Linked DNA regions of Homo sapiens: region 1 is linked to region 2. Evidence: fine-mapped expression QTL. A gene starts in region 2. The other region holds a variant in brackets. All regions are shown on one strand. Distances are between the middles of the regions.

Evidence for each region. PIP is the estimated chance that this variant, and not a neighbour inherited with it, causes the effect.
Region 1: its variant is fine-mapped to the expression of PAWR in whole blood (TOPMed, PIP above 0.99).

The regions. Positions count from the first base shown.
Region 1 is chr12:79,585,443-79,601,115 of GRCh38, reverse strand. PAWR (pro-apoptotic WT1 regulator) reads left to right here. Exons shown (of 7, transcript NM_002583.4): 5 at 4,458-4,605; 6 at 6,683-6,787; 7 at 8,423-15,673. The coding sequence ends at 8,509. Among named protein-coding and RNA genes, the nearest start is that of PPP1R12A-AS2, 97 kb to the left of the region's middle. The variant G/T (reference allele first, on the strand shown) is at 8,491.
Region 2 is chr12:79,682,013-79,697,685 of GRCh38, reverse strand. PAWR (pro-apoptotic WT1 regulator) reads left to right here and starts at 6,722. Exons shown (of 7, transcript NM_002583.4): 1 at 6,722-6,814; 2 at 7,295-7,957. The coding sequence starts at 7,442. It overlaps PPP1R12A-AS2 (PPP1R12A antisense RNA 2), which reads right to left and starts at 7,654. Exons shown (of 7, transcript NR_187531.1): 1 at 7,290-7,654. RefSeq lists silencers at 6,425-6,724, 7,495-8,014.

The DNA.
Region 1 (15,673 bases), 97 kb after region 2:
AAATGGGCCACAATTTATAGGTTTTTGCACATTCTTGTCCTTCTTTTTACGTTTCAACCTTCTCTAACATAGTGATACCCAAAGTGTAGTCCTTGAACTGTTTGTTGTCAATCCAAGACAAGAAAAGAACTTGAGAATAAGCATTTAGAAACTTGAATTGCATTTTGACTTGTCATCATCACATCCAAGTGCATGATCAGTGGATTACTCTGCGAACAGGATATAGAGTAGTTCAAGTGCCGTGGCAAGTTGCATGCTAATCATGCCCAGCAGGGCTGTTACAATGTGTGATATTTTGAAGTTAGTCATTTGTAACCCAAAAATGTGTAAGAATTAAGTAAAATGTGGCTGGCTTATGCCTGTAATCCCAAGACCAAGGCAGGAGGATAGCTTGAAGCCAGGAGTTTGAGACCAGCCTGGTCAACATAGTAAGACACGTCTCTACAAAAAAAAAAAAAAAAAAAAAAGCCAGGTATGGTGGTGGCATATGCCTGTAGTCCCAGCTACTTGGTAGGCTAAGGTGGAAGGATCACTTGAGCCTAGGAGTTTTGAGGTTTCAAGGCTGCAGTGAGCCATGGTGGCACCTCTGTACATCAGCCTGGGTGACAGTGCAAGACCCTATCTCCCCCCGCCCCCCCAAAAAAGCAAAGCATTTATTTTTAAAATCTCGTTAATTTTAATCACACTTCTTCTCGTCCCATAAATAATTTAAAAATATATAGTAATTTTAAAATGTAAAAATCTTTTTCATTCTTTAGAATTTTATGTTTTACAAGTATTATTTAAATCCTGGAAGCAAAATTTGTATTATTTATAAGTCAGATTTACTGATGACAAAACAAACTTTACTGGACTTTTTTGACAAGCAAAGATACACTTTTTTGAGTGCGATAGCAGTAGTAAACCAAATGATGACAATGGAAGTAATTTCAAAGAGATACAGATCAAAAGAATTTGTACTAGTTTTCTTGGAAAGTATTATGTGTCCTATGTTTAGTTTTTAGCCATAATTGATGGGCGAAGTGCTAAAACCAAAACCAAAGTGGGTTGTTTGGAGATACACTGGCTATTTAAACAATATAAAATGATCAAAATTTAATTGGTAGTTGCAGGCATGACATGTACAAAATGAATTCATCAAATATGTTCAAAACCAAATTCATTATTTGAAAGAATATTACAAAGATGACCGGAGCAGATGTTCAGGATTTCACATGTGATCACTAGTATTTTTGGGGTTTCTGATAGTCTGACTTGAGGTTGCTAACATTAAAAAAAACTGCATACAAATGACAAGACAAAACATGTTTGCTTGGAAATGTTGGATGAATCTGTAGTAAAGAAGATAGTTCACATACCACTTTCCAGCAACACCATGATAGCTTGATGTGTTTAGGGACAGGACAGTGATACGAAGACTAACTCTCAGACAAATAAGATCCTGCAAAGGAATTTTTGTTACAATTTGATGAACACATTGGTTTTGCTAACATAGGAAGTAACAATTTATTTTTCAGCTTCATTGCTGACATACAGCTTGCTCTGAACTATATAACACTTGCAAAGGGTTACAGTATCAACAAATGTGGTTTGGAGTTTTGCTTTACTTTTATAGGAATATATTCTAATTATGCAGGCACAGTAATAAGAAAAACATACTGAAGCTTGTACCAGAATGTAAATCGGTGTCCTGCTTCTTTCATTGAGAAAGTCTTGCTTTGCCAGCTGAACTAAACAGTGTTCTTGCTATATCAGCTGAATTCACAGTATAGTACACTAAAAGTGTGAATTTATTATTAAACACTAATTCATTACATTTGAGGTTTCTAAAAAATTAGATACTGTAGTTTGGGAGTTAGCTGATCAGCTGTTATCAGATGCTAGGGTGTACATTGGTCTTCAAACTGACCTTTTCAGTCAAGAGTATTTGAATTTTGGGATGAACTCTTGGTGTTTTTGCAAGACAAGAAACCAGTTTGGTCCCCAGCTTTTCAAATATGTGAGTTAGCTTTTTGTCTGATGGCCTTATTCTTTATTTTTTAAGTGATCTTAGCTTTCCATGCAAAGAAGGAATGTCAGTTGGCCGGGCGCAGTGGCTCATGCCTGTAATCCCTGCACTTTGGGAGGCCGGGGCAGGTGGATCACGAGGTCAGGAGCTCAAGGCCAGCCTGGCCAACATGGTGAAACCCTGTCTCTACTAAAAATACAAAAATTAGCCGGGCATGGTGGCAGGCGCCTGTAATCCCAGCTACTCAGGAGGCTGAGGCAGGAGGATCGCTTGAACCCAGGAGGCGGAGGTTGCAGTGAGCCAGAAGGCTTTTCAATGGCAGATAAGATCAGGTGACAAAAATGAAAGTTGGATTTTTGAGGAGAAAGTTACCTTAGCTGGTTATAAAGGGTTCTACGATATAGTAACAACTATCAGTAAAGTAGATGGTGATCTTGGTATTGCACATTTGAAAAGGTTACAATCAAATACCTTACAAATTTGATAGGACACTTTTATTTTCTATCACAAGAAAATTCATAGGTAAGAAATTCATAGATGAGGAATCAATTTTTAAAACGAGAAGTCACTTTCGATTTAACTGTAAATTTGCTGGATAAATTATTGGAAATGGATACCAGTCAGTGAAGGATTGAAAACAAATTTTGAAAAGCAAATTTTCTACATTTTTGACAAAAGTTTTTAAAAATGAATGTCCGAGCTTGTTGAAATTGCATTAAAATCACTGCTATTTCTGTCCTTTGAGACTGTTTTCTCTGATTGCTATTAAAACAAAACACAGAAATAGTTTAGATATACATTATCCCTTGTTGAGTAGCATTGTCCTCGGTCCAACCTAGATTAACAAATGTAGTAACTGGCTTTCAAGATAGCCCCCAGTGAACCCTACCTCCTGATGTTTGCACTGTGTATAATCCTCTCACACAACATACCAAGTTGATATGTGTGAACAATAGAATAAGGTCAGTGTGATAGTATGTCACTTTTGAGGTTGCGTTATGACCGACACTGCAGCTTCTGTCTCAGTTGCTCTGTCAGTTTGTCTCTGGAAGCCAGCTGCCATGTGGTGAACAGGCCAGTGGAGAGGCCAACATAGTGAGGAACTGAGGCTGTTGTCATCAGTCATGTGAGTGAGCCTAGAAGCAGATTCTCCAGCCCAGTTAAGCCTTCAGATGACTGAAGCCCCAACCAACATCTTGATTAAAAACTCATGAGAAGCCCCGAATCATAATCACCCACCTAAGCTGCTTCTAAATTCCTGACCAACGGAAACTTTGAGATAAGAATTGTGTGTAAGTTTGGGGGTAATTTTTAATAGAATAATACAGGAAACAAGAAGCAAACTCATTTGTTACATTAAAAACTTTAAATACTGACATATGTGCTGTTCAGAGGGTATGAACTGGTGTTTAAGGAATTGCTGTTTTACTTACAACTTTTGATTAAGTTAGAATTATGGCATAACAAAATTATCAATATGGTAGCAATTTTCTGTATTGATTGCCTGTATGCATACTTATAGTGGAGAATTTGCCACTGATGTAACTCTTTTCTTTTTTTCTATTTATAATTTTATGGGTCTGAATCTAATAAAACATTTGGACTTGTATTTTGTATGACCTTTTTAACTTTTATTTTTCCAGCAGTTCATTTTAATTTTACTTTTTAAAAGTGTTGGTCCATGAAAGATTGTAATTTTGAAGAAGGAAAGTGGTTTTTCACCACACATAGTCTGGGCGATCTAGGCCAGGCACAATGCTCACATCTGTAATCCTAGCACTTTGGGAGGCCGAGGTGGGTGGATCGCTTGAGCCCAAGAGTTTGAGACCAGCCTGGGCAACATGGTGAAACCCCGTCTCTGAAAAAAGAAATACAAAATAATTTGCCCGGTGTGGTGGCCACATACGTGTAGTCCCAGCTACTCAGGAAGCTGAGGTGGGAGGATCTCTTGAGCCCAGGAAGCCGAAGCCACAGTGAGCTGTGATTGCACCACTGCACTCCAGTCTGGGTGACAAGAGTGAGACCCCATCTCAAAAAAAAAAAAAAAAAAGATAATCTGGGAGATCTGTCCTATCGTAGTTCTCATAGTATCCATCACTGACCTTATTTTACTGATCATCTTGCTTTATTATTAGTTATATTCCCTTTTAACCAAAAGCTCTATGAAGGGCAGAGTCCATGTTTGTGTTTGCTGTTACGTCTTCAGTATCCAGAACAGTGTTCGTTACTTAACACCTATTCAGTAGATATTGGTCGAAAGAATTAATGGTACTTTTACATTTTTTTCATTGTGTGGGAATAATGATTAACTTCTACAGTTACAAATAAGTTGCTACTATAACCATATGTCCTTGGGGAATGTTAATTTTTTTAAGCTCAATAGAAAATATTCTTGGCATTTTTCTTGCTGAATACTAGGGATTTTAATAAAATGTTTATATTTCCACAGCACAACCAGTGTCTCTGAAGAAGATGTCTCAAGTAGATATTCTCGAACAGATAGAAGTGGGTTCCCTAGATATAACAGGGATGCAAATGTTTCAGGTACTCTGGTTTCAAGTAGCACACTGGAAAAGAAAATTGAAGATCTTGAAAAGGTATGGATTATAAGTTATTTAAGATTGATAAAATTAATATACCATTAGAATTCTTTTGTTTCATAGCAACTGAGTGAGAAAGGAAATAATATTCCTTAATATTTAATATGTGCGCTTTTCTGCCAACTGTTACCTTTAGTATATTAAAAGCCCTTGTTTTTGAAGTGGTTAGAAGTCTGAGCTGGCAAATATATACTACTGTGTATTTATTATATTGTCTGAATAGATTTTCATTTGTAACTTTACAAATTACAGGAGTAAATCTGAGTTAGGTCCATCTTTGGTGTTTGAAACAATTTTGTCTAAGAATATGCCTGTTTAAAAGTGTCTTTCAGTGCAAGTCAGATGACTCTTGGCATAAATTTATTAACCATAGGGTCTCAGGTTTGTGCCATAGACATTCAACCCCTAAAATTAGCAATGGTGTTGAATACTTTTGTAATTGTTGAAAATGTGTTTTGTTTTACTTGAGATTATTCTCTATATTATTAAAGATCTAATTTATATATGTTATGTAAAGAAATTTCATTTTTAAAACTTGTTTCTATTTTATAACATTTATGATTTTTTGAGGTCACATTTCTAAGCTTTAACAACAGTTTCTTCTTGGAATTATTATTTCATAGTTTTATTTATTTTTATTTATTTATTTAGTTTTGAGACAGAGTTTCGCTCTTGTTGCCTAAGCTGGAGTACAATGGCTCAGTATCGGCTCACTGCAACCTCCACTTCCCAGGTTCAAGTGTTTCTTCTGCCTCAGCCTTCCAAGTAACTGGGATTACAGGCATGCACCACCAAGCCCGGCTAATTCTTTTTTTGTATTTTTAGTAGAGAAGGGGTTTCACCATGTTGGTCAGGCTGGTCTTGAATTCCTAACCTCAGGTGATCCACCCGCCTCGGCTTCCTAAAGTGCTGGAATTACAGGCGTGAGCCACTGTGCCCAGCCTATTATTTCATAATTTTAAATTAAAAAGTTTAGACAATATGTAATCTAATAGTTTTGAAGATAGTTGCCCAGAAAGGCTTCGTGAGTTCCACAAGAGTTTGGATTGAATTGCTAGTAGTTGGCAGCAGCTAAGGGATATGGATGGTTGATTGCTCTGTAGGAGGTTTAGTAAGAAAGAAGCCAAGTTCTGGGCAAGGCCTTTTGAGCTCTGCTTCCCTTTTGCCCCCAAGGTGGCTGACCAAGCCCAGTGCCCTGGATTCTAAATAAGATGTCTTTGAAAAAGATGTTGCATTGTTTAAAGAAAAAAAAAATTAAAAATCAGTAATCTATTTTAGTTCCTTCTTTTTATCCATTATCAGTTAACTGGCAGAGCCAGAAGTAAAACTGAGGACCATTGTTTTTCTGTTTAGAGTTTCTATTGGGCCATCTCCTTTAAACTTTGTATTTTTAAGAAAAATTAATTTTGAATTATTTCAAACAAGATACCCATTAAAAAATAAGGTAGTTCATAACTTATAGTGGTGATAAGCTAAATAAGTTAAATCACAGGCCGGGCACAGTGGCTCACGCTTGTAATCCCAGCACTTTGGTAGGCTGAGGCGGGCAGATCACTTGAGGTCAGGAGTTCGAGACCAGCCTGGGCAACATGGCAAAGCCCCATCTGTACTAAAAATATGAAAATTACCCAGGCATGGTGGCATGCACCTGTAATTCCAGCTACTTGGGAGGCTGAGGCAGGAGAATCGCTTGAACCCAGGAGGTGGAGGTTGCAGTGAGCCAAGGTGCCATTGCACTCCAGCCTGGGTGACAAGAGTGAAACACTGCCATACATACATACACACACACACACACACACACACACACGAGGTTAAATCATTGAGTCTATTACATTAGTTTTGTTAAAGACTTGTATAAACATAGCTTTACTCAGGAGCATCCTAATATCTCCTGTGCATTCTCTGATTCCTTTTGTGGTGGGATCTTTGTTCCTTCACCAAATGTCTTAAGGGATTCATTGGAAATCTTCATGTATGTAAGATATTTTACCAAATTGGGGAGATATATGCCACTTAGGAAGATTATAAATAAACAATTACTTCCTAATTACTGGTTTTTAATTGTATCTACCAGGAAGTAGTAAGAGAAAGACAAGAAAACCTAAGACTTGTGAGACTGATGCAAGATAAAGAGGAAATGATTGGAAAACTCAAAGAAGAAATTGATTTATTAAATAGAGTAAGTATTTCACCATATTTCAGGTTTGGAGGGGTTTTTTTTGGCAATTGGATGAAAATATATAAATATGAAGAAATTATTAATTGCATTATTCACTTTGTTCTTTTGTTAGTGAAATAATAATTAGTAAGAGGTATCATTTTCTTCCAAAAACTGATTTCCTTTGGGCAGTTATCAGTTTAGCTCACTTAATTTTATTCTTTTGGAGATAGACTGATTTATGGATTTGTTCTCTGTTTTGTTAAAATCTGAGGGTGACAGGCGCTTTGTCACTACCATATGTAAGGGCACTGGCACAGAGTTGCCTCAAGAAATATCTAAAATTGGCCAGGCGCTGTGGCTCACACCTGTAATCTCAGCACTTTGGGAGGCCGAGGAGGGCGGATCACGTGAAGTCAGGAGTTCGAGACCAGCCTGGCCAACATGGTAAAACCCCGACTCTACTAAAAATATGAAAAATTAGCTGGGCATGGTGGTGGGCACCTGTAATCTCAGCTACTCAGAAGGTTGAGGCAGGAGAATTGCTTGATCCCAGGAGGCGGAGGTTGCAGTGAGCCAAGATTGCGCTGCTGCACTCCAGCCTGGGCAGCAAGAGTAAGACTCTGTCTCAAAAAAAAAAAAAAAAAACCCTAAAATTGGTACTCTTTATTATTATTATTATTATTTTTTGAGAAGGAGTCTCTCTCTGTTGCCCAGGCTGGAGTTCAGTGGCGCGATCTCAGCTCACTGCAACCTCCACCCCCCGGGTTCAAGTGATTCAAATTGATTACATCAAGATTTATTATTTTAAACTGCAAGAATAAATCTATAAATGTCTGCTTTTTTAACAGTAAAGAGTCTGTCTTGAAATAATGTTTCTTGTAACTAAAACTTATGGTGAATTTGTTTTAACCAGATGGTTGTGTGTTTGGGACAAGGATTAATACAGGGAAAAAAGAGCTGGATCATATGCTTTTAAAGCTGGAGAGCGAATACTTAATTTAGTGGCTTTGAATTAATTTTAGCTCTAAAACCTTTCCTTCAAAATGTCGTAGAAAAGTCCAACATACAAATTGATCTGGAGCTGAAAACAAAATTGATCCAGATCAAGATACTCCAGATCCCCTTTTCCGTAGGCCTCAGTTTTGTCACCTCTCCAGAGTGTTATCCCCATTGTACACCTTTAAAGATCAGACAGTGGTAGGAGTGCATCTAGAACTTGTACCTGCACCTTTTGATGACTAATTTGACACAAGGTTGCAACCTAGGGCTCAATACCATATATGGCTTGCATGGGTAGTTTTTTTTTTTGCCTCAGTTTTAGGGAGGGGAAGTGGAGTTTGTTTAGCTAAAAAACTAACTTATTTATGATGATTGAAAATTGGAAGATTCACAATTTTAAAATTCTGACTTTCGGCTTCCTTTGAAAAACTGAAAGATCTGTAAGAGTTGGCCTATACACTTGTTGTAAGAACGAAGAGTCAAGTAATGGATGCTCTTTTTTGGTGGGGCATATTACATCTAAAGTTGTTTTCAGAGCTTGCCCTCATTTCAAAATTAATTGGTTGTATGAATTATTTTTAATGTGTATTAAGTGTTTTCATCTCTCCTCAAATATTTTTAAGTATTTTTAAAGTGTCTTTTTTTTTTCTTAAGGACCTAGATGACATAGAAGATGAAAATGAACAGCTAAAGCAGGAAAATAAAACTCTTTTGAAAGTTGT[G/T]GGTCAGCTGACCAGGTAGAGGATTCAAGACTCAATGTGGAAAAAATATTTTAAACTACTGATTGAATGTTAATGGTCAATGCTAGCACAATATTCCTATGCTGCAATACATTAAAATAACTAAGCAAGTATATTTATTTCTAGCAAACAGATGTTTGTTTTCAAAATACTTCTTTTTCATTATTGGTTTTAAAAAAGCATTATCCTTTTATCTCACAAATAAGTAATATCTTTCAGTTATTAAATGATAGATAATGCCTTTTTGGTTTTGTGTGGTATTCAACTAATACATGGTTTAAAGTCACAGCCGTTTGAATATATTTTATCTTGGTAGTACATTTTCTCCCTTAGGAATATACATAGTCTTTGTTTACATGAGTTCAAATACTTTTGGGATGTTACCTTCACATGTCCTATTACTGATGTGTGCAACCTTTTATGTGTTGATGACTCACTCATAAAGGTTTTTGTCTACTGTCATTTGTTCTTTCCACTTATTCTAAGCATTTAGAGTAATAGAGTCATACTTTTTTATAACAGCAACCTTTTAAAAGGAAAGCTCTTATAAAGTCACTGTCATGTTTTAGTTGACTAAATATAAATTTAAGAGAATACTTGAATTGTGCTATAGTAAATAAAAATTTACTATTTTGTGTTTGAATATTGAAAAATTGAATCACTTTAACTCCTGAAAAACATACAATTGTAATTTCAATGTAAAATTTCTTATGTAGGTACTACCTTTTTTTATCGTTCCAAGGTTTGCTAGTGAACACAGGATATTTTAAAAGTTTTTTATTCTTCGGGCCTGGAAAGTGTACAAAGTCAGTGTAGGAGAAAAAAATCCATATTTTTATATTAGCATGCACACTAAAAACCAAAATATTATTCATACTTAAAACATTCATACAAAACAATATGTAAGCAGAAATAGTACTAAAATACTTTGCCTAATTTCTAAGTTGAAGAATAACACTGGGACACAGTTTTTTCATATGAGAGAATATTCCGCTATTTCAAATTTAAGGGATTTTCTTCCTAACATTGAAATTTTAAAAACAGAGTTACTTCTAAATAATTATACAGATTTTTTCTTCTATTAAATATTATTATTTAGAATTGTTTTTGTATTACATATTCATGTTAAGAACCCCGTCTTCCCTTAAAATACATTAAAATTATGACATTTTTGCTTTGTGATTGAATTTCAAATAGCAGTATGGTATCCTTTTATCTAGTTAATATATGAAAGTGGCTTGAATATAGTCAAATCCATTTTAGGTACTCTACTGACTTTTTCCTTCACTTGCCAAGCCCTTTTATTGTTCACTGTTAGAAAAATAGAGAAGGTGAGACAGCTGGGGGAAAATGTGGAGTAAATGATAATCAAATGTTGAATTCTAAAAGTCTCTACATTTACCTAGGTTGGCTTTCTCCCCCAGTTCAGAAGTTTCCAGCTTGGCCAATCATCAGAATCACTTGAGGAACTTAGAAAGAACTCCCTGGCTGTAGCTCCTATGTAGGTTTAGGTTGAGACTCTGGATTCCACAATTTTTAAAGGTTACCATCTGAGGTTTCTGATCATAGTCTACTTTTGAAGCAGCTGCTGCTGTTTCTTTATTCCATTGAACACCCTGGAATTGACATAATTTTATCTATCAGCATTTCTCCCCTTTTAGTTTATTTAATAATTAACCCGGTCTCCAGGGCAGTTTTCATATGACCATGTGTATATTCACTGCTCACGAAAAAGTTTAATGTTAGATTACCAAATTTAATATAGTTACAGAATTACTGCATAAGGGCTTCCCTTCTTGGAGACTCTTACCCAGCATGGGAACAGTGATCTGCCCACATGACAGGGTGGTATGCCAGGCATAGTTAACTGCTTTTGGTTGTGAGGTACTCATCTTCCTTTAGTTACCCTTAGTTATGTGGCACACATGTCCTTATTGCCTAGTTCGTCATCCACACTTTGGATCTTGTGAAAATGCTGTTAGTATCCAACCTTAAAATATATTAGTATATGGGTTTTTATTAAAAGAATTACTTTGAATTTTCTATTTAATTCATATGTAAATAAAGGAACATTTCATTTCACTTAAAAAAATTATATCAGTTATTAGGCTGGGTGCAGTGGCTCATGCCTGTAATCCCAGCACTTTGGGAGGCCAAGGCGGGTGGATTACCAGAGTTCGGGAGTTTGAGACCAGCTTGACCAACATGGAGAAACCCCGTCTCTACTAAAAATACAAAATTAGCCAGGTGTGGTGGCGCATGCCTGTAATCCTGGCTACTCAGGAGGCTGAGGCAGGAGAATCGCTTGAAAACCCAGGAGACAGAGGTTGCGGTGAGCTGAGATTGCGCCATTGTACTCCAGCCTGGGCAAGAAGAGCGAAACTCTGTCTCCAAAAAAAAAAAAAAAAAAATTATTAATACTTTTAAAGACTGAGCTGTTTAAGAATTTTTTGGGGAACATTTCTAGCAGTGATTTTTTTGGCCTTTAATGATAGCGTAAAGACAGGAGCCTTACAACTTAGGCAAAGCATTTCACATGCAGTCCTTCTTCCATCTCAAAATATGTACTTATTTTACATACAGAATTTTACACTAACCATTGAAAAATAAAGTAGGATCTGCTACAGTTTCACCTGAAAATTTATAAAAAGTGTTGAGATTGGTAGAAGGTAGTTTTTAAGTACATGTGCACTACCCTAAAAGACTTGTCTATTGTCAATAAAGTGTTAGTATTTGTGAAATTATTATTCCTGTTCAGAAATACTATTTCTTAAATCTCCTGGGAATTTGTGGCATAATAAAGCACATTCAAAGTTCTAATGTATTTATGAGCTCATTTTCAAAATAGTAAGTTTGTCATCTTTAAAATGAACATGACTTGCCTCCTTGATTTCTGAAATGAATTAATTGAAGATTGCTATAGTAATCTTTATTTCATCTTTCTAGAGTTGTTGACAATTTTATTATACAACAGTTACCATTAGAGAAGGAGGGAAGGGCTTTTGGGTGTGTATTTATAGGTACTAAGGGATTTACTAAATATAGTAGATTAGCACTGTCACACTTGTTCAAGTAGTTTCAAACATAGAAAATTAAGTATCAGGTATGTGGAGCAATGTAGTTTTTTTTTTTCTTCAGTTTAAAAAATTTTTAATTGTGGTAGAAGCAATGTATTCTTAAGGTGAAAAACCTACCTCGGTTACATGTGGTTTGTGTTTTTTGGATTAATCTGGATTTTATAATTAGAAATAAAAATGTAAGATTTTGAATCCACTTAATTTCTTGAAAATAGTACAAGTCAGTGTAATAGAGAAGCATTCATATATTCAACACTGTAAGACAAAACAGCAGAGACCTTGGATTTGATAATTGATCTGATATCCTGGACAGTATTCATATGTACAGTGATAGGTATCTTTCTTTGGAGTTTTTTTTTTGTGCATATGTGTATAGTTTTATGGGTTCTGAGTTGGTGACCAGTAAGTTGCATGTAGTGCTGGCACTTACTTAATAACTATTCATGATATTGTTAATAACTTGTTATAGGATTGTATTCCCAATTACAGTCTCTAAGATTGTAATTGATATTATCTGAGAGGTAGTGTGACAACTTTCTTTTGTTGTTACATTAAGCCGAAAACATAATACTAATAGACAACTAACAGTTTGCTTATCAGGCACATCAACTAAGGCACCTCCCCCCATGCTAAGTTTCTCCTGGATATATGGAAGTTGATTGTTTCCCAGTTTAAAAACTTGAACTAATATCTCCTAAGAAAATCTGAGTCCATATTGTTTTTATTTTACTTAGCTAGAATCTCATAGCATGTTAAAGTCATATCCTTATCCCCACTAAAAATAACTATGTCTATGTGAGAGGAATATAGTATGTGGGAGCTGTATTAAATACTATTACAGGTGTTACAGAATCTTTAAATAAATGGACATGGACCAACTTTCCATCTAGTAGTGTACGATCTATATAGTGCATGTCAGTAGCACAAAATGCAGTCTTAGCATTAGCCTGTCTAATCTGAATAGTTTACTCAAAAGTACTTCTTTGTGTTAAGTATTCAGCCACTGTTTTTAGATCTAGTTAATAGGTTCTATTTAATTTGCTACAACATTTACTGAATGGTGGAGTGAAAAAACTGATGCATACTGGGAAATATCTACCATTTTTTAAAGATAATGTTAATTAGGAAAAGAACACTTTTAAGGAATTTATAGCAGTGATGAAATGAATTCAGTTATATCAGATACACCAAACTGTTGATGGTATTTAAATGTGACTTCAAGTTAGTATTTCTGTATATATTATTGATTACTGGTTTGTTTTTAGATATGTAAGTCTGTTCTAATCTACAGTTCACATATCGACAGTTACTCTGGTAATAATAGAATGTTAGTGATGATCACTTGGTGGATGTTGATTAAGTGCCTGTGTTTTGTTTCCTCCTCTGGATACCAAATAGGTGTATGCTACTTTTTTGGTGAACTTATTTCTTGGAAGATTTGGCTATGCTATTCAGGGTTTTTATTCTTATGTTTTTCTTCTAAATTTAAGTAGCATCCTGCTGCTACCATATTAAAGCTAAAATTTAACTTTTGCTGAAGAATCAGCTAATTCAGGTAATCCAAATATTTGTGGAAAAACATCTGGATAATTTATTGAACACATTAGTATTGTGTTAGACAGCTTTGATCATTCCCATTTCATAGGTTTTTATTGTGGAATAGTCAACTTAATATAGATTCACTTTCAATTTGCATGTATAAAGTAATACTCAATAAAATTTTTTTCATTTATTTTTCAACAGTGGTTATTTTTTTTCTTCCTGTACTATCAGTAAAATCCTGACTATGAGTTTTACTTTTGAAGCTAAAGGATAATGCTGGTAATCTAATTATGTACCTCTTACAGAAACCATATGCAGCACTTTAAAAATCTTTATTTGGTATATTATTTTAGGTGGACAATGATTTAAGACTCAAAGCCATCATATTAAGGTCTAAATACATTAGTGGTGGGGTTTCTCGAATAAATGAGGAAGTGCACAAAAGTTCAGCCTGACTGAAAATTTTAATTGTGTTTTAAAACTACATGAATAATTTCTTGATTCAAAATCAGAACTCTTATAAACTAAATCTGATGGTGTCCAAAGAATTTCAGGTCCTTCAAAGTTTGTAAAAGATAAGTAGGGGCCTAGGAATATAAAAATTTAGACTTTTTTAGTAAATGGTTTACATAACCTTTTGTCTTAATTTGTCATTCTTCATACACAGGCACAAGCTAATCAGTCTTCTCTACTTCTAGAACTCTAAATCTTCTCAGTAATGTCATACAAGTCTAACAAGAGGAAAAGCATCCTTAAGTCAGTCTATTTAGATAAACTCTTCAAGTCCCTATATAAGGACGTATTCCACTAGCAAGCCAGTAAATTTTTCCAAGGTCACATAATCTTACATGAAATGGAACCTTTCATCTTAGACTTCATCAAACTCAATTTTTTCCCTTCTAGATTCACTTTGTGTTTATGCATGCATGCACGCGTGCACACAATTCTATCAGCAGCTGTAAACTACCCACATATTTTCTTAATCTCATTTTTTCAGTTTTTCTTCATCTTTAAAAGAGGTTACATTTCATTCCTGGTCAACTCTTAAAAAGAATTATGTAATGTTGGGCCTTCATATTAAAGAGAGAGACTGGTTATAAGATCCTTTACAGTCCATTCATTTTATTCTGATGTCTAACCAGATAGACACTAGCAAGCAAAACTTCCCTCTTAATCCTGGACCAAATGCATAATTTTACTGTCACTTTCAAAAATCTGTTATGACTGAATCAAAATCCTTTTAAAGAAAGGAAAAAGCTCCTTTTGTGTCAAATAGTTGAACAACATGAAAACAGTATGAGCCGGTTAAAGATAGATTGAATTTTTACTTTACACATATGAAAAACAGTAAGTTTTGACTGCTGTGTATGTTATTCATGTTAATATGTGCTCAGTTATTCACTATTGTTAATCCACATATAATCAGTTGCTATCCCTGGTTAGACACACTATGGAACTTGAAATGCACAATATTTACATTGTTAGAGGCTTCTATCCAAATATCTGCATTCCTTTAAAATGTGAACTATTTGCTGTGATTAACCAAAGGTAGATTATGTCATCAGTGGACATTTTAGCTTTATGGAAACAAATTATTAAGAAATGAATAGAAAGGTGTCTTTTTCTTTGTGTAGTGCAAAAGCCTAAAGCTATCAGTCAAAGGCCTAAGAAATCCACATTTGAAAAACGTAAATCATGATTGGTAAGAATACATTCATCTGATAGTATTGAGAAAAGTTGAAAAACTGTTAGCCTTCCATAACACATTAAACATTTTATGTATGGATGGCTGAAAGTATTGAGAAAAGCTGAAAAACTGTTAGCCTTCCATAACACATTAAACGTTTTGTGTATGGATGGCTTAGGACAATAAACAACATCATTAAAGTAAAATTATGTCAGTCTGTTCATATTAACTTATTTAAATCAATGAAAATTTTGATGAGATGACTAAATGGATGCTTTGGAAATGCAGGATTATAGGAGGCCTAAAAGTGCATCTTGTTTCTTGTAACCCTTTTAAAACCAATATGCCTGGCTAGGTGCAGTGGCTCATGCCTGTAATACCAACGGGGTAACACAGGGTTATGCCGTCTATACAAAAAAATAAATGAGCTGGGCAAGATGGCATGCACCTGTAGTCCCAGCTGCTTGGTAGGCTGAGGGGGAAGGATTGCTTGAGCCTGGGAGGTCGAGACTGCAGTGAGCCAAGATCACACCACTGCACTCCAGCCTGGGTGACAGAGCAAGACTCTACCTCAAAAATAAAAATAATCAATATAGTTTCAATGAAGCAAAGCATCTCAGGTAACAATTTGAGCATAACTTTAACCATAACTTATGATAGCATAATAACATTCATTAGTAATTCAGTAGCCGTATGTGCCAGGCTGTGTTAGGTGCTTTATATATTGTTTAATTTTTAAAAACTTGTGGAGTGTACAGATTGGTAAGGTGACATTGTATCACAAAGCTAGTCTTTGAGTCCAAAGTTTTGTGGTTTTATGTTATGATATACTTTTATCATGGAATTGTCTTATTAAATG
Region 2 (15,673 bases):
CAATAATAAAATGCATACAAAATGGCATAGAAATATGTCAGAGAGTAAATGAATAGGGTTTTTTCCTGGATTTTTGTGATATTTATGGCATTTTTCAATTTGTTAAAATTTGTAATTTAAAAAAATTTCTCACTTATTCTAAATATTTATTTTCTTACGGATTATTTTTCTTATAGAAAGTCCACCAAATTATGTAAGCTTCAGGCACCATAAAATCTAGGTCTTCCCTGGATAGGCCAAAAATCTGGTCTAAGATTACCTACAGGCAATTGAAAACAGAATATTCACTAGCTATATGAAAAATAGTTTTACTATATGGTTAAAAAAAGTTCCAAAAGAGAACCACATCTATTCTTAATATGGATGTCAGAAATGTTTTCTAGGTTTTTGATAATAGGAATATATGTAATATAATGGGCCACACCTTCAAAAAAAGCCTACAGAAAATAAAACAAATTTTTAGAGCTCTTTCTTATAGTGTCAATCAATATGGGCTTATGATGTAAATCACTGAGGACAGAAATAAGATGTAGACGTCTCTGCTGATCTGGACTTATGGAGTAGATTGCAAAGTATCTAGAAATCTGCAAAACAGATGAATTGGACTTCCTATTAAATATAACAGGCTGAACACACGTGTTTATCTTTACTTCCTCAAGTAACTTCACTAAAACCAAAGTAAAATGATAAACCAGTAACAACAAAGAGGATGAACAGTAAGAACAAAATTTTGGAAGATGAAAGATAGAAAGCAGACAGGCTTTAGCAGAGCAGAGTAAGGTAAATTCTAACAACCTGCAAGAGACAAAGCCAATAAGAAGTAATCTTTTTTTGTCCTGCAGATCCCTGAAGAAAGGTTCAGAATTGGAGGCAGCAGCATATACCTCTGAAACAGAGTGAAGGATGGGGATGAAAACAGAAGGATTAGTTGAAAATCTACACAAGGAACAGTTAGATTCTCAAATCCCTTCTGCAGGGCTCAGTAGCAAGGAGACTATCTCTCCTGATCCTGGCAGAGGACTGGAAGTTTTCACATTGTACAGATGTTGAATTACAAACGCACTGAAATTGGGTACGTCAGATATACTAAGTATAGGGATTAAGTGAAAACCTGCGTATTGAGTAATGAGACTCCTCCAGTCTTCTTTCCCTACTTGGCACCTGAAAAAATTGGCAACTGACAACACAAGCAGAAATAGTTTTACTCAAGGAAAATTATTGGGCCAAAAGAGAAGCTCCATAGATGCTGAATTTGACACATGCCTCCAGAAAATGTCTGCGGCCAAACACCGGCTCCCTAAATGAGGCCCATCAGTCCAACAAGGTCTTCCTTTTCACATAAGAGCTTTCAATCAGCTTTGCAGTGCTTCAGTCTTAAATATGAATAAACTGATGAGGAAGTGCTCTAACATGAAAGATGAAGATTAAAACAAACAAAAAATGTAGGCAATTTGCTTAGAGGACAAAATGCTCAATATGTATCATAAGACCAAGATGCTACAGAAAAAAATATTTAGAGAACAAGAAAGAGATATTAGAAATAGTGTCCGAAACAGAAAATTCTATAGAAGAACTGGCATACAAAGTGAAGGAAATTTCACTAAAAGTAGAATAACATGCCAAGGAAATGAAAAATAAAAGAGAAAAGAGAAAAAATTTGTTAGAGAACTTCTAGCATTCCAACACCTACTTAACAGGAATTCCAGAAGGCAGGAACAGAGAAAGTAGAAGGAAAGTCTTATAAAAGAAAGAGAATAGGCCAGGCACGGTGGCTCACGCCTCTAATCCCAGCATTTTGGGAGGCTGAGGCAGGTGGATCATGAGGTCAGGAGTTCAAGACCAACCTGACCAACATGGTGAAGCCCCGTCTCTACTAAAAATACAAAAATTAACCAGGCGTGTGTGCCTGTAATCCCAGCTACTCAGGAGGCTGAGGCAGGAGAATCGCTTGAACCCGAAAGGTGAAGGTTGCTGTGAGCCTAGATCAGGCCACTGCACTCTGACCTGGGCGACAGAGCGAGACTCCATGTCAAAGAAAAAGAAAGAGGATAAGAAAATTTCCTAACTGGAAGGCAGATAGCTGATTAAAAGGGTCCACTGACTGCATAACATAATAATGATAAAAGACCAAATCAGAGCATATCTTCAAGATATTTCAGAGGATCTAAGTAAGAAGATCCAAAAATTTTGAGACAGAAAATACAATGCAATCAGAATGCCACTGGTCTTCTAAACAGCAACTCTGGAAACTAGATGATAATAAAGCAATGCCTTCAAAATTATGAAGGAAAATGCTTTCTAACCTAGAGTTCTATGCTCCACCAAACTATTAATCAAGTATGAAGATAAATTTAAAACATTTTCCAATATGCAAGGTCTCTAAGAATGAGTTATACTATCTTCAGAATATACTGAGGATATACTCTGCTAAAATGAAGGGGAGAAACAAAAAGAGAAAAGTATGCAATTCAGGAAACAAGAAGTCTACAGAGAAAATGATTCTCAAGGTGTTAGAGGAGCATAATCCCAGGATGACCACAAGCAACGAGCCTTAAAATCAGTCCAGATTAGGCCAGGTGCGGTGGCTCACACCTGTAATCCCAGCACTTTGGGAGGCCAAAGCAGGCTGGTTGCCTGAGCTCAGAAGTTCGAGACCAGTCTGGGCAACATGGTGAAACCCCCGTCTCTACTAAAATACAAAAAATTAGCTGGGCGTGGTGGCATGTGCCTGTATTCCCAGCTACTCTGGAGGCTGATGCAGGAGAATTGCTTGAACCCAGGAGGCGGAGGTTGCAGTGAGCCAAGACTGCGCCACTGCACTACAGCCTCACCAACAGAGCGAGACTCCGTCTCCAAACAAACAAACAAAATCAATCCATATTAAAGCAGGGGATGGAGGGCTCCAGAACAGATGTTTCCAAAAAGAGAATAGAACTGATAGCTTACCCAATGTGATTAACGTCATTGAGAGGAGGAAAATTTGAGTATATACTTGTGACTGGTATATAAAAAAATAAGCCGATGATTAAAGAAAAAAAAAGAGGCAAGTTTTAACTGCAGAAAAATGGTAAAGACAAAAGGTATAGTTGTGCAACAAGGAAAAACAGTTGTAAAAAAAAAGAAATGCAATCATATACACCACATGACTCAGCTATGAACAGTATTTGTATAGTCATAATACTACGGGCGTGTAGGAGTATGAAAAGTATATGTGTGGCCGGGCATGGTGGCTCATGCCTGTAATCCCAGAACTTTGGGAGGCCGAGGCGGGTGGATCACGAGGTCAGGAGATCGAGATCATCCTGGCTAACACAGTGAAACCCCGTCTCTACTAAAAATGCAAAAAAAAAAAAAAAAAAAAAAAAAAATTAGCCGGGCGTGGTGGCAGCCACCTGTAGTCCCAGCTACTCAGGAGGCTGAGGCAGGAGAATGGCGTGAACCCGGGAGGCGGAGCTTGCAGTGAGCCGAGATCGCGCCACTGCACTCCAGCCTGGGAGACAGAGCGAGACTCCATCTCAAAAAAAAAGAAAAAAAAAAGAAAAAGAAAAGAAAAGTATATGTGTTATTAGTGTATTAGAGCTAAATCCTCTTCTATATCTAAAAATGGAAAAATCAAGATGTACAATAGCAGATATGCACATAAAAAATAAATATGAAGATCTCTATTAATGGAAACAGTTAAAAAGTTCAAAGTTTTGGGTAGGGTTTTCAGAATGGATAAGGTAGAGAGGGGATTGCTGTTTTTTGTTATAATCCTTGTAGAACTAAAGTATGTAATTTTTTTATCCTATGCACATATAATATTTTGATGTTAGAGGATGAATTGCATATGTTCCAGAAATACCTGCATTGAAGGCAAAATGGCTACTTCCCAATACACTAGCTATCCATACATATAATAATACACTTCCTCAAAATCATTAAGACTAACATCTAGGTTTCACTCTGACATATTTAAATGAATCTGTTTTTGTCAGCATTATCATCATATTTCATTTTATTATTAAGGGCAAGTGAGTCGCTAAAAATTGGTTATTTTAGGCTAACTCAGAGGTGCTCAACCGGGGAAGAATTTTATCCCAGGGACCATGTGGCAATGTCACAATACAGGTGGGGGTTTCTTATTGGTATCTAATAGGTAGAAGCCAACGATGCTGCTAAACAACCTACAATGGGCAGGACAGCAAAGAATTATCCAGCCCCAAATGTAACAGTGCTGAGGTTGAGAAACCAAGCTCCAAGTCTTTGAGGATTATTTCATCAGAACGCTATACATAAAGATTGATGATATGCAAACATCTTGCAATTTAGGACTGACTCAGCTAAATACCTCGGTGCAATGTTGGAAGCAGTCTGGCTGTGAAATATATCTTCGGGAATATTGAGAATGGTAAAGACAAAAGGTATAATAAATGATAATAATAACAAAACACAGAGCTTTGTACCTCAATAATCTCTTTCATCCATGGTTCCTAGGGCACTTTATAGACTAATAATACCTACTCTGGTACTCACATACCACCTTTTATCTAAGGACTGCAGGCACTTTCACAACACTCTCACGATGCAGGAAGTATTATTATCCCCATTTTATATGTAAGTAAACAGAGGCACAAAAGTTAAGCAACTTGCCCAAAGCCACACAAGTCAGTAGCAGCCAAAATTCCTGACTCAGAACCTATTAACACTAAGAGAACTGGTCTAAGCCATGCAGTGATAAATTTATGTGGGGTGTTATCCTAGTTCATTCAAAGTCTATCGTTTTTAGGCTGATATTGTATATTCAATACCCCATCTGTTATAATTTCCTCTTCTCCCATACACTTCTTAGAGACCAAGGACTTTAAGCCCCTAGAAGGGACTATGTTTACTGAGTGCCTTCCTCGAATCAAGCACATTTTATGTGCAGTGTCAGTTCTTAAGACAGCTTAAATATAATGTAATTGGGAGGCTGAGAGCAGGAGAATTGCTTGAACTCAGGAGGCGGAGGTTGCAGTGAGCTGAGATCCCGCCACTGCACTCCAGCCTGGCGACAGAGCGAGACTCCGCCTCAAAAAAAAAAAAAATGTAATTTTTGCTGATTTTATAGTACAGAAAGCTGAGTACCAGATAATGTAAACATGCCCAAGATCTCTCAGCTAGCTGACTATACCCTCTTTCCACTATATCCTGCAGCCCTTCCAGGAGAAAAGTCCTCTGATAAGTTACAAAGCATATGAATGTGAATACGTTTAATGTCCCAGCCTCCCTTACTCTCCTTAAAACTCAGAAAACAAACTAATGAATATGTAATTGAGAAACTTCAGGTGGCACACTGGGGTTGGTACTAGCTTAGGTAAACAGCCGCTCAGCCTTTTAGACCTATTCCCAACAAAAGCTTTTAATTTTCTAAGGATTTTTCCAGAGCTCTCGCCATACGTTTCCCACAACAGCCAGACCAAAGACCAAAACTGTCTTTCCCTGAGAAATATAGAGCATGTGAATCACTTTCTTCTGTTCCCAGTTCTGTGGCAGGCAAACACTGATTGCTCACTCATCATGTGCTACCTGGGCAAAACAGGAATATTAAGTAGGAAGAAAGGTTTATGTTAGGTAAGAGCGTGACTTAGGGCTCTCCTACTTTTTTACAAAATGGAGACCTGGCATTTGTAGCCTCCCACAATGATGTGCCCTGACATTACTTGGATATAGAAAGGTCAGTCTTAGGTGCGTCAGTGACAGCCCACCCCGCTCTGATCCAGAAATTTCAGATGACTTGCATCAGAGGATAAGCCTCTGGCATGTTAATAATGAAAAAATAGAGACAATCACTGCCCCAGCTCATCTCAAATTAGCATCAGTGCAGCGTTAGTACTTTGGTAGGGAGCTTTGCTGCTAAATTCATTCTCTGTAAAGAGGAGAGGCAGAGACAGGGTTAAGGGGAAAACTCCAAGACTGGAATCGCCAATACAATAAACTGTCGAACTGAGTTTTTTCTCCCGCAACCCTAAGATACTAGTAAGTCCTTCCTCTTAGCCAACCCTTTTCACCAGGGCACCGCAGTTTTCTTAGAAGGAGGGTGCTGGGTTTGTCTCAGGTCTTTCTATTCTCCTGCCCGCTGCCCTAGTACATCTGAAAAGGGAGCAGCGACTAGGAAAAGAGACACGTGGGTATTTTCCCATCCTGTCTAGTCATTCCCTGAATCATCACAAGTTATCGCACTTTTCCCCTTAGCCAGCAGCGTTCGAGACTTTCTCTCAAATAATACGGTCTTGTACTTAAAAGGAAGAGTGGTGGGAGAAGAGAGAGGCGGAGAAGACAAGCAAGAAGGGCGTGGAGTGCCGTTCCCGCCCCGGAGTCGGAGGCGCCGGGAGGCCGGACGCCGCGAAGCTGCTAGCCCAGGAATGTGCCGTCTAACTCGCAGGCCGCGGGCGGAGCGCGGCGGGCGCGCTGTGGTCTGCGGCGGGAGCGGGGCAGAGGACGGCTGGCGCAGGGCAGGCTGCAGCGGCGGGCCGGACGCGACGCCGCGCACCTGAGCGCCGGGGGCGGGGCGTCAGCGGCCACGACCCTTCCCACCGCGCGCCGCGCCCCTCGCGCGCCGCCTCGGCCTTTTCCGCTCGTGCTTCGGCGCCGCTCGGCTCCCTTCCCGCCCCTGGCTCCCTCCCTCCCTCCCTCCCTCCTTCTTCTCCCTCCCTCCTGTCCTGGGATTGCCTGGAGCTCCGCACCGCGAGTTTGCCGCGGCACTTTCCGCGCGGCGGAAGAGCGCGCGCCAGCTTCGGCACACCTGGGAGCCGGATCCCAGCCCTACGCCTCGTCCCCTACAAGCTCCTCCAAGGTAAGGCGCTCGCTCACACCCGGTCCTTTCCACGCTCGGCGGGACAGCTGGGTCCCCGCCTCCTCTGCGAACCGGCTAGGAGCTCCGCGCCTCGCCTTGGGAGTGGGGTTGTAGCTGACGGGGACCTCGGACCGGCGGTGGCTAGAGCGCGGAGCAGGCGATACGACGAGCCGACAGGTGGCGGGTCTAGCCCTAGTATCTCGACCGCCGCCGGCGCGGACCTTGGTGGGGATGGGGCGGGCGGGCCGACTTGGGGGTGGGGTCAGTCCTCTCTCCTCCCTTCTAGGGGCGGCGATCGTCGGGGTCCGTACTGTAGGTGCGTGGGAGAAACTTTGCAGGGTGGGGACCCGGCGGCTGCTGGCCGGTAGTGACTGGTGGGCGCGCTCGAGGACTCCAAGGGGCGCAGCCCGGGGGCAGACCCTTGGGTCGGGCGGGGATCTTACGCTTCCCTTACCCGCCCCCTTTTGTCTTTCACCTCAGCCCCGCCGGCTGCTGTGGGAGCGGCGGCCGTCCCTCTCCTGGAGGTCGTCTCCTGGCATCCTCGGGGCCGCAGGAAGGAAGAGGAGGCAGCGGCCGGAGCCCTGGTGGGCGGCCTGAGGTGAGAGCCCGACCGGCCCCTTTGGGAATATGGCGACCGGTGGCTACCGGACCAGCAGCGGCCTCGGCGGCAGCACCACAGACTTCCTGGAGGAGTGGAAGGCGAAACGCGAGAAGATGCGCGCCAAGCAGAACCCCCCGGGCCCGGCCCCCCCGGGAGGGGGCAGCAGCGACGCCGCTGGGAAGCCCCCCGCGGGGGCTCTGGGCACCCCGGCGGCCGCCGCTGCCAACGAGCTCAACAACAACCTCCCGGGCGGCGCGCCGGCCGCACCTGCCGTCCCCGGTCCCGGGGGCGTGAACTGCGCGGTCGGCTCCGCCATGCTGACGCGGGCGGCCCCCGGCCCGCGGCGGTCGGAGGACGAGCCCCCAGCCGCCTCTGCCTCGGCTGCACCGCCGCCCCAGCGTGACGAGGAGGAGCCGGACGGCGTCCCAGAGAAGGGCAAGAGCTCGGGCCCCAGTGCCAGGAAAGGCAAGGGGCAGATCGAGAAGAGGAAGCTGCGGGAGAAGCGGCGCTCCACCGGCGTGGTCAACATCCCTGCCGCAGAGGTGAGCCGGGCGGGGGCCGCAGCCGGACCGGGCCGGGGCGGGCAGCTGCCTCCCGGTGTCTTCCTCCTGGGAGCTACCCGGGGCGCAGAGTTTACCTCCCCTGGCTCGTACTTGTCCCTTCACCGAGTTAGGCAGGCAGGGGGTGATGGAGTTTTACTCTGAACAAATGCTTCCTGGGAAGTTCCCCAAACTCAGAGTAGGACACGTGCTTTTCAGGCTTCCTGGCCAGGTCTCAGATCCAGGATCCTTTTTTACCGTGGTAGAAAGACAACTTATGGCTCCAGGACTTGCCCACCTGGACTTGGCTGACTTGGCCACCTGGACTTGGCTGTTTATGCTTGATCAGTTAGAAAAATTGATTAATGGTGACGACATTCTCTAGGGTCTCACGTGCCCATGTGAAGTTACCAGTTTATTTCTCCTTTCTTACCAATGTTTAATAACATCTGTAAAGAAAATGTTGCCTTAGCAATATCCAAGACAGCTTTATCTTACAGTGAGCTCAAGATGAGTATATCCAAATGAATACGTGCACTATTTTATATATAAATCAGCTGTTTATAAGTTGTGCTCCTAAACACACAGTGTTTTTCTGAGTGATACTTAGGACAATAGGGATGATTTAGTAACCCACAATTCTGTTCGCTAAGACGATCTCTTTTTGAGTACTGTGTCTGAAAAACATGTGGTAGGGTTTTTGTTTGTTTTGGGTTGTTTGCAGTTTGGAGCATTTTCGAAACGTTACAGGTAGCAGCATCTTCCATTAGAGTGACTGGTAAAACATTTTTACTAAGTGTATAATCACACCTCCCTCTACCAGAAACAAGACAAAACAATCTCAAACAAGTTTTGATTACTTTGATAGTAGCTCATGGATTTGAGGAAGTGGTTCAACTACCTTGTTTCACCTAAAATAGTTGCATCTTTTTCTCATTGACTGTTTAGCTTTCACTTTTTCTTCTCCTGGCTTTCTAATTTTACTCAACTTTAATTGTGGTTTAAGTAGAAGCATTTGCAATAAGTTAGGGTGTATATTAAATATACCTAAATTTTTAGTATTATGATTTCCATACCTGTTAAATCATAGTGTGTCTTTGTAGGACGTATTTATATGAGCGTTTCAGAGATTTTTATCAGCCAGCAAAACTGTCCTCTGCGGTTTGCTACTTGCACAAAAGATCTGTTATTCATTAAATTGCTTTAGAAGGAATTCGTAAGAGTGGTAATCAAATTTCTAGGTGTTTTTTTTTTTTTTTTTTTTAGTTAAAAATATGAAGATTAAGGGGAAATTGAAGACAAGGCTTTGGAAAAGCTACATTCCTCAACTTGATTTTTAAAAGTAGCTGATGATCCAAATAAAAGAATTTGTCATTTTCAATCTTTTCCTCATTGTTCATCTGACAGCGGTCTTATTTTGGGAAATATCTTGGCAGATGTTAAACTTCACTTTTTTTCTGGCTGCATGTGCTAAAATTATTTTTCAAGTACTTTTTTTTTTTTTAAACAAGGGTAATGTTTACTGGGGGAAGTAAGTAGAGTGTATCTTGTGAGATCCTAAGAAACATCTTTTGTTAATACCCCTGCTTTGAGTAAGAGAACATAGTGCTGAGAATGTAGATGACTTCCCACTACAATGGAGTCTAATACTCTGGAATGTTTTTCGTTTGGGTGTTGGCAACTCCTAAATTTAATCTTCCCTGAAAACAAACAAACCAAGGGTACCTTTTTTTTTGTCTGTAGAGTTTGAACCTTTTTATTGAATAGGGAATTGAGGACTGCTTTCTTTTAGTGGTAACTATGTCTCTGTCCGTTTCAAGCTGCAGGACCCAACAAAACAGTAATGCTTCACTACAGTATCTAATTAACAGACATACTTCTTGAGCGCCTCCTCCTCATATTTTCTTATTTTTCAAAACAACTTATGTATTTCAGATTATTTTAATAGTGGTAAAATATATGATGCAAAACTTTAAAGCTGAGCCATTTTCATGTGTTTATATTGTTGCTTTTTTAGAATTGTGCCATTTCTCCTGGTAGTTTCAACATTGAGAATACCAGTTGCTGTGGAGTTTCTTGTGTAATATTTAATTTAGCACCCCTGTTTTAAAAAGTCATACATATTTTGCAAATTTTTCGGGTATGAAAATAAGTAAAAAGATGAAAATGACCAATCTCTTTATATTCAAAAGTAGACTTTATTTTATCTAATGTCGAGTAAGACTCTTATTTTCAGACATGATTCCCAACCAAGTCTGTATTAGTAGATTAACATGTAGTTCATATGTAGAGATCTGGTTTTAATGGTGGATAAACATTAAGTTCCTTCAAGGAAGTACTTATGAAACATCTGTGTGATACATTTATTGTGACTTTCATTACCTCACTTTACTAGTTATAGAGTGTATATATAATACTGTTATAAAGGTATCTGACAGCAGCTAAAGATACCAGAATTGACTAGAAGATAGTTATAGGCAAGGAACCAGGTCAAAAACCGAAACTAGCTATTTGGGAGGTAGGAAACTGGGTGGTTACTGCATGTGATGGCTGAAGTCGATCTATCCAGAGCTTCTTTAATGAGATAAAATTTACTAAGAGTTTTAAGAAAAATATCCTTTTTTCTAAATTTTTACATTTTCTATTTTTTGGTAGTAATTCACCTGAACTGGGTAATTTGGACGTGGCATACTTCTTGCCAGTAATTTTTGTGTGTGTTTATCAGATCAGTCAAATGTGTATTACATACCTGTTAAAGACACTATCCTTAAGCAGTGGAGAAAATAAGAACACGGCAGTGTATATTCTCAAGGAGCAAGGCTATAATCTAGGAAGAAGGATAAGGCATAATTACATGAAAAAATTTAAGTACTGAGTTAACAGTTTAAAAGCCATCTTAATGAAGCATGTAACTATTTATTGGAAATAGTGTGTGTTTAAAAGGGGGAGATGATTGGGCTGGGAGAAGCTATTGAGGATGAGAATCTTGACCTGAGTCTTAAACTTTTCAGTACTTGTATATTTTTACATATGTTCTCACATATGTACATGTATACATAATTGTTTGTATAGTATATTAAGTACCGACATGCAGTGGTTCTTAACTTGAGCAGCACATTGATAGCATGTTAGGATCTTTAAAAAAATGTTTGCTCATGCTAATTCAATTCCGTGCCCTCTTTGTCCCTTCACCCCACCCTGTAATATTGAATGGGTCTGGGATGGATCCCAGGCATTAATATTTTTATAAGTTCCCCATTTGATTCAAATGTGAGTCAGTGATAACAACTGTTGGACTGCAGTCTGGGTATAGAAATGAATAGGACATAAGCCTTGCCCACGAGGTGCTCTCAGGTAATATAAGGAAATGTGAAAAGTAGAGTAGTAAGTATAGCTTAGTGCCTGAGCAGGGTACCTAACCCAGGGAGGAGGAGTGATAGTTGAAGAAAGCTTCCTAGACAGTTACATACTTGTTTCCAGGGGGTTTGTGAAGTTACTGCCATTGAGTAGGGTTGTGTGAATGGGTTAATGGAGATGGGTGCCATAGAAAATGTAATCTTTGAATAGGTAGAGGTGGCACTGAAGTTTTGGTTTAAGTATAAAAGTTAACATATACAGTATTTAAAACTTCTGTTTTAAAATAGTGGTTGGCTAAAGTGGTTTAGCTTTAGTGGTTGGCTAAAGTGCTTTATGTACTGAAGTTCACAGCAATCTCATGTGGTAGTTACACTGTTTATCACTATTTCCAGAGGAGAAAATGAAGACTTAGAGCTTAAATGATTCAAGATCACATAGAAAGTAACTGATAGAGCAATATTTTAAACATTTTTGTGTATTTTGTGTGTATGTATATATCTAGGGAAAGGGGAGTTTTTAAAAATTAACCTACTTTTCATTATTCAGCATATTTCCCTAGATTTTTACATAACTTTTTATTAAAGATTATCTTAAGTAATTTAAACATCTGAATGAGGAAAACAGTAAAGGTATGGAATTGAATAGAATTTCAGGTCAAATTTGTGGACTCAGAGATTGCCTCTGACCCTCTAACCTATAGAGTGGCAAAATTTTGAACACCAGGCTCTCGGCAAAACGTAAATTTATTTTTGGCTAGTGGTCAGAAAATGTGAATCTTTGATTTTACCTAAGTGATATATTGTTTTTCTATCAAGATGGGGTCATGACACCTACTCCATAGTTTGAACTCGTGTTGGTGAAAGGGAAGATAAAGGAGCATTTAACATATAGAAAGCACTTTTAAGTGAACACAGGTTAGGTCATAATTATTTAGTATGTTTATTGAACATTATATATAGGACAAGTTCCACTTAGTAAACTTTATAAATCCAGGTGGATTAAGAAATGCCTTTTGTTATTCCCATTATGCTCCAGACTGTCTACCTTTCTGTGTGATGAGTCAGGAGAGAAACTAATAATGACTCAGAGTTGGAGAAAATTTGATTCGTGAATGGGGTAGATATAGTGTAAACACTGAGACTGTTTAGTGTAAAACCTGGGCTATTAGCCCAGCTTTCCTAAATGTTTGAGCTCACTGGTAAAGTAAATTGAAATTTTAATATTATCAGGATTTGTACTGAGTTGTCTGAGCTGGGATGTCATTTCTCATAAAAATAATAATTACATAATTAAAGTAGATGACATTTATGGTGTGCTTATTAAGTGCCAGGCACTGTTCTAAGCACTTGACATACATTAGTGCATTTAATTCTCACCACAGCCCTATGGGAAAATGGGGAAGAGAAGGTATGTTACTTGCTTCAGGTCATACATGTAGTGAGAAGTAGATTAGAGATAGTTTGCACTCACAGTCTTGTGCGTAATAAACCATCTTACTACACTTCAGTGTATTACATACTGTATACCTAGTTTAAGAAATACAAAGAATATTTTAGTGTTAAATTGTTAGTATATGACTATGGAATTTAAAAATAGCCCTATTTATAGAACATAGATGAAGTGAGACTTTAATGGAAAATTTTGAGAACAAATGAATATATAAACACTGGCATTAAAATTCTTATTTAAAATCATTATCAAGCTAGTGGCCTGTTTATACTATTTTCTTTGTTTTTTTCTTTCTTTCTTTTTTTTTTGAGGTGGAGTCTTGCTCTGTTGCCCAGGCTGGAGTACAGTGGCATGTGGTGTGATCTCAGCTCACTGCAGCCTCCACCTCCCGGGTTCAAGCAATTCTCCTGCGTCAGTCTCCCAAGTAGCTGGGACTGCAGGTGTGCACCACCATGCCTGGCTAATTTTTGTATTTTTAGTAGAGATGGTGTTTCGCCATGTTGGCCAGGCTGCTCTCAAACTTCCAGCCTCAAGTGATCTACCCGCCTCAGCCTCCCAAAGTGCTTGGATTACAGGTGGGAGCTACCGTACCAAGCCTATCTATGCTATTTATTATTTCTGCATTTTTTTTTTAGCACCTATGATGTGTGCCAGAAAATAATTATGCCATTTAATAGCAAGGTTGATATAATGTTTTATAAGTATAAAATTATTGGCAAATATTAGGGTTTGACATTTTCTCTGTGCTTTTTTTCCTTTTTTAAAAATTGAGATATAATTCACATACAATAAAATTTACCCTTTTAAAGTGTACAGTTCAGTGGTTTTTTAGTATTCACACGGTGTGCTCTTAAGTGCTTTTATATTTTCATCTTTATTTTTCATTATGTTCTTAGAACCTCTGGTCCCTAAATTTTAGCTTTCCTTTCAGTAAAGTGATATGGTATTCAAATTATGAGAAGCCATTAACTTAAAATAATTTAATATCAGCCTTTCCCACTTTACAGAGAAAATGAAATTATGGTAGGATCTCCTCAATTTTAAGTTTCTTAAAACTTGGGCACCTACTACCATTTGTTTGCAGTGGAGTTTAGTATAATAGGTATTTATTAGGTTTGTGCAAAAGTAATCACAGTTTTTGCCATTGAAAGTAATGGCACCAGCCTAATAGTTGGATTACTTTTGCAAAAACCTAACAATTTAACTGAGTGTAATACTTTCACCTTAATAAAACTTTTACATATCTTTCATGGAGATCTGCAAAGCTCTGTCATCTAAACATTTGGGAACATTGATTCAGAGTTAAAAAAAAAAAAAAAAGGAGTTTCCACTGCTTACCACTTTAGTTACAGTACTAGAATCAGTGTCCTAAAAGATGTTTCTGGGGGGACCATCTCTACCAGTATCACTTTTGCCATTTATTTAAAATCAGATTTCTGGAATCCACCCCAGTCTGGGTTAGGGATGTTATCTGAGAGTCTGCATTTTAACTTGAGTGATTTTGGTACACACTAAAGTTTGGGAAGAACTAACTTAAATACCCTGTACTAGTTTACTGATCCGTCAAATGAAATGAATGCTGGTTATCTAACAGGATTGTTACATGAATTAAATAAAATGATGTTTGTGAAAATGTTATAAAAATGCCCAAATCAGAAATTGTAGTTACTGTATAGGTTAATTTCCTATGAGGTTGTTAAACATTTTCATTTTTTTCTTCCAATTTAAAACTGTGCATATTTTAACAGACAGGTTGAGCTACTTGGAAATTCAAAGTACTTTAAACATTTATGTAATGTCACATACTTAGTGCAAAATGCTCTGTCTGCTTTGCCTCTTTTCCAGAATTTAGACAAGTCTAGACTACAGAAACACCTCAAATAGTTAATGCGTAATTAGAACTTTACTTTCACTCATTTTTAATTTTTACATATCTTTAAGTGAAAGCATATACTTGTGTTTATAAATGTATTTGATAATTAGCAACTCAAACTTTTAAAGCATTGTGTTTGCCATCTTATCAAACTACTATCAAGTGCAAACATTTTTCCCATTGATTACAAATCTTACATGTTAGACCTATAGGCATCCTTGACTGGCAATTGATTTTGAACATATTTGGTTAACTGCTGAGTCAACTTTCTGTTTAGATCTTAGGCAAATGTGTTATAGCCATATACCTACATGTATAGAATTGAGCCTCAGCCACCTGTTACATTCTCCTTAGGCTATGTAAAAATACACAGGGCACCATGGCTGAACGACATTGTAGGAATATTTAAATTCTAAAAGCAGCAAAATCACACACTTCAAAGGTAAAAAGAGCTCCAGCAAGTTCAAATCTTAGCATGTCAGTTGACTAGTAAAATGTTTATTCTGTGATAGTTTTTGGAGATTTTGTCCAGCAAAATTTTGTGGGTCACAGTGTATTTTTCAATGATAGTCTCATTTATTTTAAGTAGTTGAAGAAATAGGGCAGTTGTATTCTGAAAATTAATATTTTGTTAGGTTTTGCTGAAGTGAACAGATAGGAGAGAATTTATATTGTGGATTACAATTCTGTGGCAGCTGAAACTTTGTTTTCAGGCTCTTCATAATAAATTCTGTGGGGCCAGGTGCCATAGCTCACACCTCTAATGCTACCACTTTGAGAAGCTAAGGTGGGAGAATCAATTGAGCCCAGGAGGTCGAGCCTGCAGTGAGCCGTGACTGCTCAACTGCACTACAGCCTGGGTGACAAAGTGAGACCCTGGCTCAGAAAAACTCAAACAAAACAAAACTCTAGGGGGACTAAGAGAATAGGATAAATAAACATAATAATATACAGTTTGAAATACAGAACTGAAACAGATGAAATTAACTTAAAAAGACATCTTTCAGACTAAGCTTATCTATGGTCATGTAAGCAAACTA